Linked DNA regions of Homo sapiens. The protein of the gene in region 1 interacts with the protein of each later gene in a pairwise test. Each region holds a gene or a part of one and is shown on either strand. Other genes may lie near its edges.

The links. Proteins that work in one complex are often made in the same cells at the same time.
Region 2: the proteins of PFDN4 (region 1) and RFPL3 interact in binary tests that used the Homo sapiens proteins (3 or more experiments, as listed by UniProt).

The regions. Positions count from the first base shown.
Region 1 is NC_000020.11:54,211,082-54,218,105, reverse strand, and holds part of PFDN4 (prefoldin subunit 4), read right to left. Parts: intron 3,756-7,024; coding exon 3,648-3,755; intron 2,809-3,647; coding exon of another isoform or gene 2,807-2,808; coding exon 2,666-2,806; intron 1-2,665. UniProt on the Homo sapiens protein: Binds specifically to cytosolic chaperonin (c-CPN) and transfers target proteins to it. Binds to nascent polypeptide chain and promotes folding in an environment in which there are many competing pathways for nonnative proteins.
Region 2 is NC_000022.11:32,353,687-32,360,875, reverse strand, and holds the start of RFPL3 (ret finger protein-like 3), read right to left. Parts: upstream 3,010-7,189; 5' UTR 2,805-3,009; coding exon 2,432-2,804; intron 971-2,431; exon of another isoform or gene 625-970; coding exon 44-624; 3' UTR 1-43.

The sequences.
Region 1 (7,024 bases):
ACACAAACCAAATACCCACTAACATTAGAAACCAAAGAATATCTAATACTGACAGTGTTGCCGTTTTAGAAATCTAGCCAATGGTTCTCAAACGGTGGCCCCGAGACCAGTGTCAGGGACAAAATCACCTGGGAACTTGTTAGAAATACACATTCTGGGGCCCTACCTCAGCCCACCTGAAAGATCGTCTTTGGGTCGGGCCCAGCAACCTGGATTTTTAACAAGCCCTGTGGTGACTGTGATTCTCACGCATGCTAAGTTTGAGAATCACTGTTACAAAACAAGAAACAAAAATAAGACATATGGCTACTAGAAAGGGATAAATTCTAAATTTCTATACCGAGAAAACCTGGTTAATAAGTAAAATAAGACACTAGAAAGTCATTTTAATATCGCAAGTCCAATCATCTCTCTCTTTTCCAAAAATCTCTGAAGGCTCCTCTTTGCTCTGGGACGGGAGTGGGCAAACTATAGCCCACAGGCCCAATCTAGCCTGAAGCTTGTTTTTGTCAAGTTTTATTGGAAGACAGCCACGCAGATTCACTCATCTTGCTTTCATAGTAATTATGGCAGAGGCTGTGCAGCCCACAAAACCTAACGTATTTACTTCTGGCCCTTCACAGAAAGTTTGCTGACCCCTGCTAAGACAAAGTACAATTTCTTCAACTCAACTGACTGGAGTTCTCCAAGATGTGGCCACAATTTCAGGTGCTCCCAATCTCCAGCAAATACATCTTCTTGCAGGTCTATGTTTGCACCACCGTCATCCTATGGCCGTTCACACATGTTGCTTCTCACGACTAGAACCCCCCGCCCCCCGCCGCCCCTTTCTGGCTAATAGCCACTTATTCCTCAGCTGTTATCCCATCACTTTCCCTGGGAGCCCTTCCCTGACCCTTGATGTCCAGACTAGTGTAGATTCCTCTTCCTGTGTTCTTAAAGCCACCTCTATCCTCATATCACTTTCTACTCATTATCAGTTTTGTTTACTTTTTTTTCTTTCCATCTAGACTATATGCTCCATGCAGGCAGGGGCCAGGCAGGTTTTGTTGTCCCCAATTATCCCTAGTACATGGCAGAACCTGATACAGAGTAAGCACTCCATTCATTCTAGAATTCTAGAATGAGTAAAAAAAGAAAGGTTCAGCCGGGTGTGGTGGCTCACGCCTGTAATCCCAGCACTTTGGGAGGCTGAGGCGGGTGGATCACGAGCACGAGGTCAGGAGTTCGAGACCAGTCTGCCCAACATGGTGAAACCCTGTCTCTACCAAAAGTACAAAAATTAGCTGGGCGTGGTGGTGGGCGCCTGTAATCCCAGCTACTCGGGAGGCTGAGGCAGGAGAATTGTTTGAACCCAGGAGGCAGACGTTGCAGTGAGCCGAGATTGCGCCATTGCACTCCAGCCTGGGCGACAGGGCAAGACTCCATCTCAAAAAATAAATAAATAAATAAATAAATAAAATAAAATAAAAGTTCAGTAGCTATCTGTGTATGGGGCAGGGGATTCACAATAGCCACAAAAACCATAAGCTATCTGGGAATACTTCCAATAAAAATGTTTTTTAAATGGTTAAACAAATAAAAAGAACAAAAATCACAAAATTTGACCAAGAAGAAAAGATTTAAACATAAGGGAGACATATAAGATTTATGCATGGAAAGACCCAGGAGTGATAGTTCTTCTGAAGACTTACTAAATGTGGGTTTCATTCATACGAAGTTTTGCTTTTTATGACATTTGAAGAGAGACTATCATTTTAAGCAATCAGGTTAATTAGCAAAAGCATTAGGAAAGGTTTAATTGCCATCTGCTTCTCATAGACAAACAACGTGGCTGTCCCTCCCAAATAGTAAGAAGGCATGTGAACTGAAAATTTCATACCATGTATCAAATGTCTCAGATATTATCAGAGAACTCATATGCTGACTGACCCAGTAATTATATTTCTCTAATTATTTCCTCAAAACAATTTTCTAAATGTGAACAAAGATTTATGTAGAAGAATGCTCACAGTAACATTAGTACAGCAAAATATTGGAAACAAATTAATGCTAACAATAAGACCCGTGACCCCAATTGATAACCATCAACATGATATTAAACAGTCTTCAAAAACGATGTTTTTAAAGGCCTGTGTGCCAGGCTCAGAGCAGGCTTCCAATGAGTATCTGCTGGACAAACAAACATTCAATGAAACCAGCAAAAATGCTCCTCCTGGAACATTAATTGTCCCAACTGGGAAGCAAACTACACGGAGAGAGGCAGAGAGAACATAAAAGAAATACAGGAAAATGTTCACTATGAATGGTTACCTCTGCATAGCAGAATTACAGGGGATTTTTCTTTTCTGCTTCAATATATGCTATACCTTCTAAATACTTTTAGTTTTGAGCAAGGTTCTGGAGTCAGAAGACCACTGTCTATGTGTCACTTTGAATAAATCCCATAACCTCTCTAAGCCTCTATTCTTTGTCCCTAAATTGGGATAACAGGTCATCGTTATGATTCAACAAAATCCTGCTGGCAAAGCATTCGGAGCATGCCTGGGACATAACAAGGCAGTAAATATTAGCTATAGCTAGCATCTACTATTTCCCTACATCTATAATTACATGTTCTTTATAGTGATATAAATTCTAATTTCAGAATTAACCTTTAACATACCTTTGCTTCTTCTAACATTTCTTGCGTTTCTTCTTGAGAATGGCTAATGAAGACATCACCAATTTGATAAGGTATCATTAAGCAATCATCATCTGCAAGCATGATGTCATCACAAGCATCTTCTAGGTTTTGGAGTTGTTTCTATAAATGCAAAATGGCAAAGAAAATGTACTCAAAGTTCTCTGATAGAAGCTAAAGGCCAATTGTAATTTGGGGACAGCAACTCTCTGAGGGACCCTCTCACAAAGGTATTATTACCACATTAGAATAAGACCTTAATTTGTAACTTTTTAGAAGACATTTCACAAGCAAGCACTTAGAGCTACCTAAAGCTTTGTCCTCTGGACAATAAGCGCCCTGTGGTGGACAGCAGGCACATGGTCACTCAAAATTTCTTCTATTTTAACAATTTTTGACTTTGTGAATTCTGCCTTCCTACAAAAACAAAACCAAAAAAACCAGCCTACATTTCTCAGCCTTGCTTGCTGATAGGGTGTAAGTAAATCATGCGGGTAATGAAAGTTCTGCCAGCATGCATAAGTGATAATAACTTCAATTCCACCAATCAAATGCATTTGAGCTGGATTTCAACTCAAGGGGGACGGCTGGACACAGGCCCCAGATTTACTGGGGTAGGTGGCACTGGCAGCAGCAGCTTGGTGTTCCTAAGTCTGCAAGGGTGGCTTCCTCATTGGGAAGACAGCTGACTCTGGGATCAGTGGAGGCAACAGCTGTTCCACCGCCAGCCAAGTTCTCCGAGACTTGTTCCTGGAACCTCGGTCTAGACTCAAGCTCCTCAACAACTCTGTAAGTTATCGCATATCCCTTAAAAAAAAAATGACTTTCTGCTTAACTAGAGTGGATCGCGTCATTCATCTGCAACAAACAGCCCAGAGAAATATATATTCACTTGTTAACTGAGTTCAGTTTTAGTAGCTATAGTATAAAAAAATTTTATTCTTCTAATAATTATTTTCAATACCTTTTTTACTTCTATTTCTTCCTTCAGCTCTGTGATTCTACTTGTATTCCGTGCAAATTTGTTTATCTTTTGTTGATCTTCGAAAGTAACATTGACATCTTCTGCAGCCTGAAAGAAGTGTTTAAGTTTTTGTAAAATTTTAACGGAGAAGTTATCAGTTAGCTTTTTATATTTCTCAACAATAACTCAATAAGCCATTTGCACTCATATAGTCAAGAATCACAAGAAGTACAGAACATAACAAATGCCTTATTTTTTGCTCCACAAGCTTAAGGTTTGTTTGTAAATCTATAACCTTTTCTGATACTCCATAAAATAATTCCTAAGCTATAAACATATTGCAAACATAAAGAACAATTAATAAGTCCTTTTAAAAGGAAAGAAAAAAAGCCAACTTTTGGCACAGAGCAGAATTTCTCAAGTTGGAGCATTCTTTCATTAAGATGACCCAGGAAACAAAAAGTTACATGGTCAAATATATTGGTAAATGTCTCAGAGTAGTGTTTTTTTTTTCTTAGAGCTAAAACTTGCATGAGCTTACTGGCTAAAGGGTCACTGTACATTTCAGTGGCTCTATTCCATTCACAGCAAAAATTATGTTTATAATGTAGGACCTGTTTAAATGTCTTAATAAGGTCTACTTTACTAAAAAATGATGAAAATTGAATGTTTAGTATTTAAAAATTAATATTTAATGTGATTAAATTTACAAATTTGCAAATAAAGAGTACTTGGATAACATAAAGTACCAATGAAATAATAAAAAAATAGCTAACACTGATTGAATTTACTATGTGCCAAAACTTCCTAAGTACTTTATTATCTCTGCTAATCCTGCAATCCATCTTATTAGGGAGGATCACCAGCACTATTTTACAGATTGAGAAACTGAGGTACACTTTATATAATATGGCCAAAGCCACAGAGCCAGTAGGTGGTGGAACTTGATTTCAACCCAGGCAGACTGGCTTCAGAGGTCAGACAGGTCCATGAGTTCTCGGTAACTGAATGTGAACGTGCGTCTCTGTGAGTGTGCACGTGTGTGTGTGAGTGTGTACACAGGCTTAGGCACATCTGGAAGAGGCAGCAGGATGTCTGCTTTCATCAGATTCTCAAGGAGGTACCATATATTTTTAAAAAATAAAGCTAAAACATAAAACCAGACTCTCCTTAGGGTTTCCCTTCCATTTATAAAATGAAAACCAGAGCACCTGATTCTAGTTTAAAGAAGAAAAGATATTTGTGTGTGTATAAAAATAGTTCATACTGAAACACTACTTTTGGCTCTTTTGCAGTAACAGTAATGAGCTCACAACATTCACACTCCATCCCTGACCTGGTCTCTCATGACCATCGACTTAAGGTATGTGAACTTTTATTTCTCAGAGGTTGAAAGGCAGTGTCAAGCAATACAGAGCTCAGTGGTCGGAATATAACACAGTCCTCCCCTTTGTTAGGCTCTCATTCCAAGAAACAATTTCACATGCATTATGCCCCACCTCAACAACCCAGAAGATAGCCTGAAAAAATCCTTTACATCACACTATGTCTAGCTTTGAGTGTTCAACCGTATGCATAATTTTGATGAATATGGAAGTTGGGGAACACTGAGCTACGCTCAAGAAACCAAAGTCTATATCTTGGCACACAAGTCATTTTGCCTAAGTGAGAACTGTCAATTCCCTACGCAAATAGACAGCAGAGAATTCTGAAGAGTTCCTGTTTGCCTGAAGAGTATATGCCATTTTGTTTAAATATTGAACCCCCAACAGGCATTTATAGATGTATTTGTCTTGGTGAGGGCTCAACAGAGCCATTCACATGAACGGATCCAGTGCAGGACTGCCTGGCACATAACTAAGGCTAATACATGGTTTCTGAATTTGAATCTAAATCATGCTTGATCAGACTCAAACACATAGTTTCCAAAATGTGGTAGAGAGAATTTGGCTATCTGCTTTCTGTCTTTCCAAAGCAGGAATTTCCTGTTGTAGCCCCACCAAACCACAGGCATCAGCACACATGTGGCCCCTGGTATCCAGATCTTTACAGTGGTTTTCCCACTGGGGTTAAGGGCTAAAGTTGATGTGTGAGTCAAATATACTGCATGCCGCCCAGTGGAGTGCCATTTACAGCAGACAGTAAGATGTCAGTGCCTTTGATGGCTAACAGAGGCTTCTGTTTTAGTCTCACTGTCCTAGAACATTCCTACATTTCTTGAAGCTGCATTTTGGCAAGAAGTGGGTAATTTTTTTTTTTTTTTGGTGAGACAGAGTCTCACTCTGTCGCCCAGGCTGAAGTGCAGTAGCATGATCTTGGCTCACTGCAACCTCCACTTCCCGGGTTCAAGCCATTCTCCTGCCTCAGCCTCCCAAGTAGCTGAGATTACATGCACATGCCACCATGTCCGGCTAATTTTCGTATTTTTAGTAGAGAAGGGGTTTCACCATGTTGGCCAGGCTGGTCTTGAACTCCTAACCTCAGGTGATCCACCAGCCTCGGCCTCCCAAAGTGCTGGGATTACAGGCTTGAGCCACCACGCCCAGCCAGAAGTGGGTAATTCTTAACTGGGGGGTGGGGGTGGTCAATGGACATTGACAGGTCGATATACCCAGAGACTGTATGCAAAATGGCATGTATAGTATGTGCATCCTTCTGGAAGGTCTTCATAGCTTTCACCAGATTCTCAAAGGGATCCACAACCCCAAAAGGTTAGGAACTCCTGCCTTCAGGGAAACCAGCTGTAGCTACTCTCAAAGTCAGAAGAACTCTAGGAAGAACTCATATCCTATAGTATCTGAGGCAGCACACAGAGTGGTGGGAAGAGTCAGGCTGCAATCCAATCCAAGCAAACAGGAACCTTGGGCAAATTACCCAATTCTTTGGAACCACCTCAGGTTTCTCATCTGTAAAATGGAGAGGCTAGTTCCTACCTTATAGGGTTGATAAAATGAACATGTAGGAGAAAGCCTGATGATGGAGTCAGTCAAATGATAGCTAAGCATTTTACATCCTGAATATTGTTTATCAAAAATCATTACAAAGAACAGATCCAGATCTAGAAAGAAATTCTGCTAGGCCAAAGAGAAATATGCCTGCTCGGGATCCAAAGTAAAAATTAAAATTCCCTGGGCTCTTTTCTTGAGAACTAATATCTTACGGGATTAGAGGAGGAAACTGAACCATACTCAGTCATGCCTCACACCAAGTCTAGGTATTACACGGAGTCTGCACTGACAGCTGGGTCCCTAGAAATAAATTCTGGCCAATTTCAGTCTTTTATTTTTACTTTTAAAAACATATCTACCAAGTCTGTATGATGTAAACTTTTGCTTTGTATTTGTATTCAACCTTCTTTGTTTGTTTTTTTGTTTTTG
Region 2 (7,189 bases), on another chromosome or scaffold:
ACCCAAGTAATTTTCTGACCCTGTTTTTTTTTGCAGTGGCGGCTTATTTGGCCTCCCCAGGACGGACTGGAGCATCAGTAGTGCCTGAGTTCATCAAAGGACAGATGCTCAAGACACCTTGATCACCATTAGGTGGAATTGAAGGAGCCAAAAATGGGCGCAGTGGCTCCTCAGCAGAGACGCTCCTGAATGTATAGACATGGGAACCACTTTCAGCATCAAAAAAGGAAACGTTCTGCATGCCCATATCCAGAAAAATCCCCACTCGCTGTAACTTGCGGTCTACTAAGAGGAAAGTCAGCGGCACCGTGCTGGCAGAGAGGCGGCTTCCATCCCTCAAACTCACAGTCCAGAATCCAAGCTCTGTGGTCAGCTGGATCTTCCCTTTGCAGTGAACAGATTCTCTGCAGACTCCCAGGTCCCATTCTGTGCTTGTTCCCACGTCCACCTCCCAGTAGTGGCGGCCACAGGTAAAGCGAGGGGAGCCCAGGATGCAAACGGACACGTCAAATCTCTCGGCAAGGTCTTGCCGATTCTGTGTGATGAGCCCACTTCGGACGCTCCTGAGGTCGTCAGAAATGAGGAGGAAGTTGTTGGCTGTGTCGGCATCCAAGGTCATATCCACTGTGAAAAGGAAAACAAGTTGCTCAGCAAGTGGACAGAAGCCAACCCCATGCCTCTCTTCTACTTCAAAGGCCCAAATATCTCCTGACTTTAGTTTCTTTAATTCTGTTTCTTCCTCCAAAATCAAAACTTTTCATGAGGAAACTTCCCTATTTCAAATTTTCATAGGTATGCTTTGTGGCAATACGTGACTCTTATTCACAGTAGCAATTCTTATTTTACTTTACGTCACGTGTTTGCTTCACTGAACTTTTCTTCATTTAGAGTGGAGGGTCTCTGAAGGCAGACACCATGCCCCCCTTTCTACCACCTTGATGTGTGAACAAATAAATGATAATTAAGACAATGCAAGTGGTCAATATTAAATATGTTTCTGCTTCCACATTTTATTGCTCCAATTCAGTATATAGAGCATGATTCCAGGCTTTTGTTTTCCATGTTTGTAAACAAATTAATTGTGCACAGTTCTGACAGCAGATAGGGTATCTCTGCAGCTGACAATGTGATGACAGAGATGCTGGTCCTGGACATTAGGAGGCTCTAAGGCCAGGTGGAGGAGGGGGACCTTTTAGATGAAAGAATGTTTTCTATCCTACATGGAAGGTGAGACCTTAAGCAAAACAATGGTAAATTTTGGAGCCAAGAGAAAGGTATTTGAAAGTTGTCTGTCATAACTGACTGATTGTAGAGAATAAGGGCAGAAAATACAAAGGTCAATAATTTAAGGCATTGGGTATGTGACTGACAGGTGAAGCCGCCAATTCTCATGGAGGAGGCAGTGTGATCTGGCCTAGAGAAAATTAATTGTCCAGAACATTCTGAAAAAAAAAAATCTACAAAATATATTATCCTTCAAGTCAAAAAACTGATATGATCACTAATATAGATTTTATAGATCACAGTAAGACTACCCTAGTCAAGACTAGGGATTGATTGCTATTTAATGGTGAATTAGGGAATGGACATGGACAAGGAAGGAGGAAGAGGGTTCCAAACATGACTTGGACAGGGTGAATCTCTGTCCTCCATAGTTCAGCAGAGAGACAGTCAGGTATGGGTAGATGGATGAGTAGAGATCATGGGTGTCAGGGCAGAAGCTACCAGTGTCAGGGACATTATAGGGGCCCACCACCATTTATAGGTGTAATTCTTTGCCCAGGCTGACCATAACCTTTTCATTTAAATGTCCCTTTTCCCCAGAGTTATGGAGAGTGATAGTATTTTCTGTAGCCAGGACCACTGTTGGAGCCCATGGCGCATGGATGAGGAGACCAATATCTGCAACTCTCCCCACTCACAGAAACAAACACCATAGGTGCTCCATTCCCAACTCTTCTCAACCCTGGGGTGAGGTTGTTTGGTACAATGGGTGCCAATATTCACTGTGCATTAGAAATACCAGGCCCATCTTAATGTCAGATTCATGGGAACCTTTGCTAGAGAGAAATTCAAATTCAGTTGCTCTATGTTTTTGCTACTCAGCAAAGTCCCCAAGCCAGCGGGATCAATCCTGAGACTTCCCAGTTCAGCATCTGCATTTTAACAAGATCCCCAGGTAATCTGAGCACACTAAGTTTAGAGAATCCCTTGTCTAACCCATGACATAGACATCGGGTTTTTGTTTGTTTTTGTTTTTGACATCACCAGGTGATTCTATGTGTTGTCAGGGCTGAGAATGTGATGATGAAGCATCTCAATTTTAGGTGCCAGACAGCAGCTAATCCCCATGTGGAATGAGGGGCCAACTGCACAGATGATTTTTCCTGGTCTGGTCTTGGGAAGGGGGCAGGGTATACAGATTCCTTACCTTGGAACTTCCGCATCCTTGGGTTCATCTGTAGAATCTTCTTCAGCTTGGGCTCCAGTTCCTTGATGTGGGAAACCAGCCTCTCTAGCTGCCGATTGGGCCTGATTTTGTTCCTCTGAGAGACCATGGAACAGCAACAGCAAAGCAGATCCTCCCCATGGGGCTCCTTCTGCAGCGAATTGATGCACTTGAGGCAGACGGTGCATCCACACTCCAGGGACATTGGTTTTTCCAGATAGTCTGAGCAGACGGGACAGCTGCTTGCTTCTTGGAAGAGTGCAGCCATGTCCACTGCCAGGGGAAAAGTACACAAGGGAAGAAAATTTCCTTGAGGTGAAAGCCTGTTAGTTGTGACAAGTGACAACCTTTTCATGCATAGAGGTATTGTGTTCCAGCTTTGTCACTCCGAGAACAAGACCATGAGTACAAACACTCAAGCACATCCCCCCACCCCCCGTCCTCAGAGATTTGAAGTTCTATTGGGAAAGTCACGAATCATCACTGTGCTCTGAGCTGAGGTGGAGGAAGGGTCCATTCTCCTGGTGACCCAGCAGCTGAGCCTGAGCCAGTGACGTGGCAGCACCCATGTGAGGAACAGCGAGCTGGGGTCATTTCACCACCTCCTAGGGGAACCCCAGCAAGAGACTGATTGATGAACATAAGAATTAGGAGCTGAGAGGCTGGGCACGATGGCTCATGCCTGTAATCCCAGCACTTCGGGAGGCCAAGGTGGGTGGATCATCTGAGGTCATCAAAAGTTCGAGACCAGCCTGATGGGTGAAACCCCATCTCTACTGAAAATACAAAAGAATTAGCCAGGCGTGGTGGCACACGCCTGTAATCCCAGATACTTGGGAGGCTTTGGCAGGAGAATCGCTTGAACCTGGGAGGCAGAAGTTGCACTGAGCCAAGATTGTGCCATTGCACTCCGGCCTGGGCAACAGAGTGAGACACCATCTCAAAAAAAAAAAAGGGGGCTGGATGCAGTAGCTCACATCTGTAATCCCAGCACTTTGCGAGGCCAAGGCAGGAAGATCCCTTGAGCCCAGGAATTTGAGACGAGTCTGGACAACACAGGAAGACCTCATCTCTACAAACAATACAAAAATTAGCAGTGAGCAGAGACCACGCCAGGTCACTCCAACCTGGACAACACAGTAAGACCCTGTCTCACCAAAAGAAAAGAAAAGAAAAAAAATTACATCCTTCTCCAGCCTTGGAAATGAATACCAAATTAACTGCCACCACTGGTGGGCAGGGGACAGGCTCGGAGGTTCCCTGAATGACAGAGAGTTGTTTTAGGAACCTCATGTCACACCCTTCTGAGACACTGTGGACCATGTCTGAGGGGTCCTACACTGGCACTGAGGGGGCCTGACCCCTCTTCATACACTGAGGTCAGGGGGCTCCCAGGTACACAACAGGATGCTGACCTCCTGCCGCTCGCCCACCCACAGGCCAGCCCAAGGCCACCCCCTTGGTCACTCTGTTCCCGTCCTCCTCTGAGGAGCTCCAAGCCAAAAGGCCACACTGCTGTGTCTCATGAGTGGCTTCTACCCGGGAGCTGTGACGGTGGCCTGGAAGGCAAACAGCACCCCTGTCACCCAGGGTACGGAAGTCACCAAGACCTCCAAACAGAGCAACAAGCACACAGCCAGAAGCGACCTGAGCCTGACACCCGACCAGTGGAGGTCCTGCAGCAGCTACAGCTGTAAGGTCACACACAAGAGAGCACTGTGGAGAAGACAGTGGCCCCTGAAGAATGTTCTTAGGTCCCTGACCCTCACCCCACCCATGGGGGCCTGGAGCTGCAGGATCCCAGAACAGAGATCCCCTCCCACCCCAAATCATCCAGCCCCTCTCCTTGTACCAGTAAACCCTTAATAAATATCCTCACCGTCAACCAGAAATCCTGCTCCCTCTCTTCATTTCTTAGCTAACATATAATTTGACACTCACCCTGGGTTCTTAGTGTGTGTAAGGGGGGATTACTTGCACCCTGTTGGATAGCAGCCCGGGGGAGAGGCTCCCAGACTCCCAGGGGTGTCTCCTGAGGAAACAGGCCAGGCCAGGCATTTGATCACTGAACACCTCTCTCTCCATTCTCTCTCCCCACCTCTTCCTCCTTGCAGCTTGGCCCCCAATTGCTGACTACTTCCTGGATGAAGCTGTCCCTAGCTGAGCCTTAAGACGCACCCTCTGTCCCTACCCTAGTCAAGACCCTCTACCCACCCACAGCCTCTGTTTCTTTAGCCTTGAAATCCTACTCTGGGCCTGGAGCTCCCTGGCCCCTGGAATGCCCTCTTTTCTCTCTGCCCAGCTCCCCAGCCCTGAGAGCCAGGCTGTCCAGGACACTGTTGCATCGTCAAATTCATGAGGTCTTACATTTGGGGCCCGCCTCAATTCTTCACCTTACAGCAGGTTCAGAGATGGAAAAAAAAATGGGAGGAAGCCAGGAAGGAAACACACACAAAAGGCCAGCAGGTGGCTCAGGATGCTTGTGAAAGGTAGTATCCCAGCTGTGCAGGAAGCAGTGCAAGGAGGGTAATAGGTGTTCCCTTATTTCTATGAGAATATGCAAAGCATTTGCTCAAGGAGAGTTGGTTTTCTCAGTGTTGAAGCCAGCCATCTTTTCTTTTCTTTCTTTTTTTTTTTTTTTTTTTGAGACAAAGTCTCGCTGTGTCACCAGGCTGGAGTGTAGTGGCACAATCTTGGCTCACTGCAACCTCTGCCTCCCAGGTTCAAGCGATTCTCCTGCCAAAGCCAGGCATCTTTTCACGACTAAAAGCAAGTACCTGTCTTAACCAAGGCCTCAATATTGATGGGATTTGGTCTCTGACACATGCACAGGTGACCTGTGCACCTAGGGCTGCCTGGCAGCTCTAGGAAATGGCAATTCTGTCAGGTACTTGGCACAGAAAGTCACTGGCCTTCTTTGGAGGATGCATCATTTATGGAAACACTTCTTTATTGGATCCTGGGTCTCGGGTGGAAAACCAGGTCCCACATCAGGACTTTCTCTGTGAGGCTCCCAGGTTCTGGGGCTCCAGCTGCTGTCTGAGAGGAAGGTGTGGAGACAGAGAACATAGCCTAGAAGAGCCTGGAACTGAGACTTCCCCTTACCGAGGTTATGCAAATGAGGTTCTTGGACTACATATTCTGATTGGATGAGAAGAAAAACCTCTAGATCTACTCTGATTGGGCTTTATTTGCATGTTCTGATTGGATGAGAGCAAGTCTTAGGACAACCAATCAGAACATGATAACAAAGTCCAATCAGAGTAGGCCTAGAGGTTTTCCTCATCCAATCAGAACATGTAGCCCAGGAACTTCATTTGCATAAATTCTCATATATAAATGATGCCAAGTGGGGGGAGTTTTGTCATTCCAAGCTCTCCTGCGTCAGCTTGTGTAGCTGGTTAGTACTGGCTTAGAGGAAAAAGAAAACGAGTCACTTCCTGAGCACACTGGAGTCTGGAAGCTTAGAGGAAAAGGAGGAGGAGCAACTTCATTAGCACAGTGGAGGCTGGAGCCTGCCGTGGCTCACCTCGCTGCTGCCGTTGGTGCGGGCCAGGGAGACTAGAGCGCAGCCAGAATGGTAAAATGGTGGTGGGAAAAGTTCGCCATCCCAGGCCGTACTGCCTGTGGCGTGGCGTGGTGGGGTGGGTTGGAGGCCCTATCCAGGGCGTTACTGCCCGTGTTAGGAGGCTGGTTGGATGTGGTATCTGGGGCCTCACTGCCCACAGAGGGGAGTGGGTTGGGGGTGCTATCGGGTGTGCGCTGCCCGTGGCTGGGGGTGGGTTGGAGCACTATCCCAAGCTGTACTGCTAGCGGCAGTGGGGAGTTCTGGGGGCACTATCTGGGGATGCAGTGGCCGTGGCCGGCGGGCGAGTTGGAAGAACTATCGGGTGTTGCATTGCCCTTGTCAGGCACGGGTTGGGGGCGCTATCGGGTGCTACTCTGCCTGCGGTGGGCGGGACGTGTTATATCCAGGGCATCATTGCCTGCGTCTAGAAGCTGGCTGGGGGCATTATCCATAGCTGCACTGCCCACAGCAGGGAGCAGGTTGGCAGCACTATCTGGGGCTGCAGTGCTGTGGTGGGGGACGGGTTAGGCTCATTACAGGGTGCTACACTGTTGGCAGCAGGGAGGGGGGTGTTGAGGGCGCTTTCTGGGGCCTACACTGAGACAGAGATAGCAGGATTTATTGGGAGTGCTACTGGGGGCCAGACTGCCCGTGTAGAGGGGGTGGGAGGCTGGTTGGGGGCGCTATTGAGGGACGTATCCACTGCCCGTTTTGGGAGGGGGCGGGTTGGGTGCTATCAGAGGTCTGTACTGCGTGCCAGGGAGCTGGTGGGTGTGCTACCTGGGGCCACATTGGTTCCGGCGGGGCGGGTTGGGTGCGCTATCGGGGGCTACCTTGCCCGCGCAGGGGGTGGGTTGGGTGCGCTATCTGTGGCTGTACTGCCGGAGGCAGGGAGTGAGTTGGGGCGTCTCCCTGGGTTGCTGCTCCCAGTGGGGAGCAGGTTGGGGCACTATCCGGGGTTGCACTTCCCGCAGTTGGGGGGCGGTTTGGGTGCCATATCAGGGCATTACTGCCCCCAGCAGGGGTCTGGTTGGGGGCACTATTCGTGGCTACACTGTGTACGGCAGGGAGCGGATTGGGGGCGCTATCCCGGGCTGCACTGCCCGCGGCAGGGGGCGGGTTCTGGGCGCCATTGGGTGCTGCAGTGTCCGAAGCAAGGGCAGGTTGGGGTC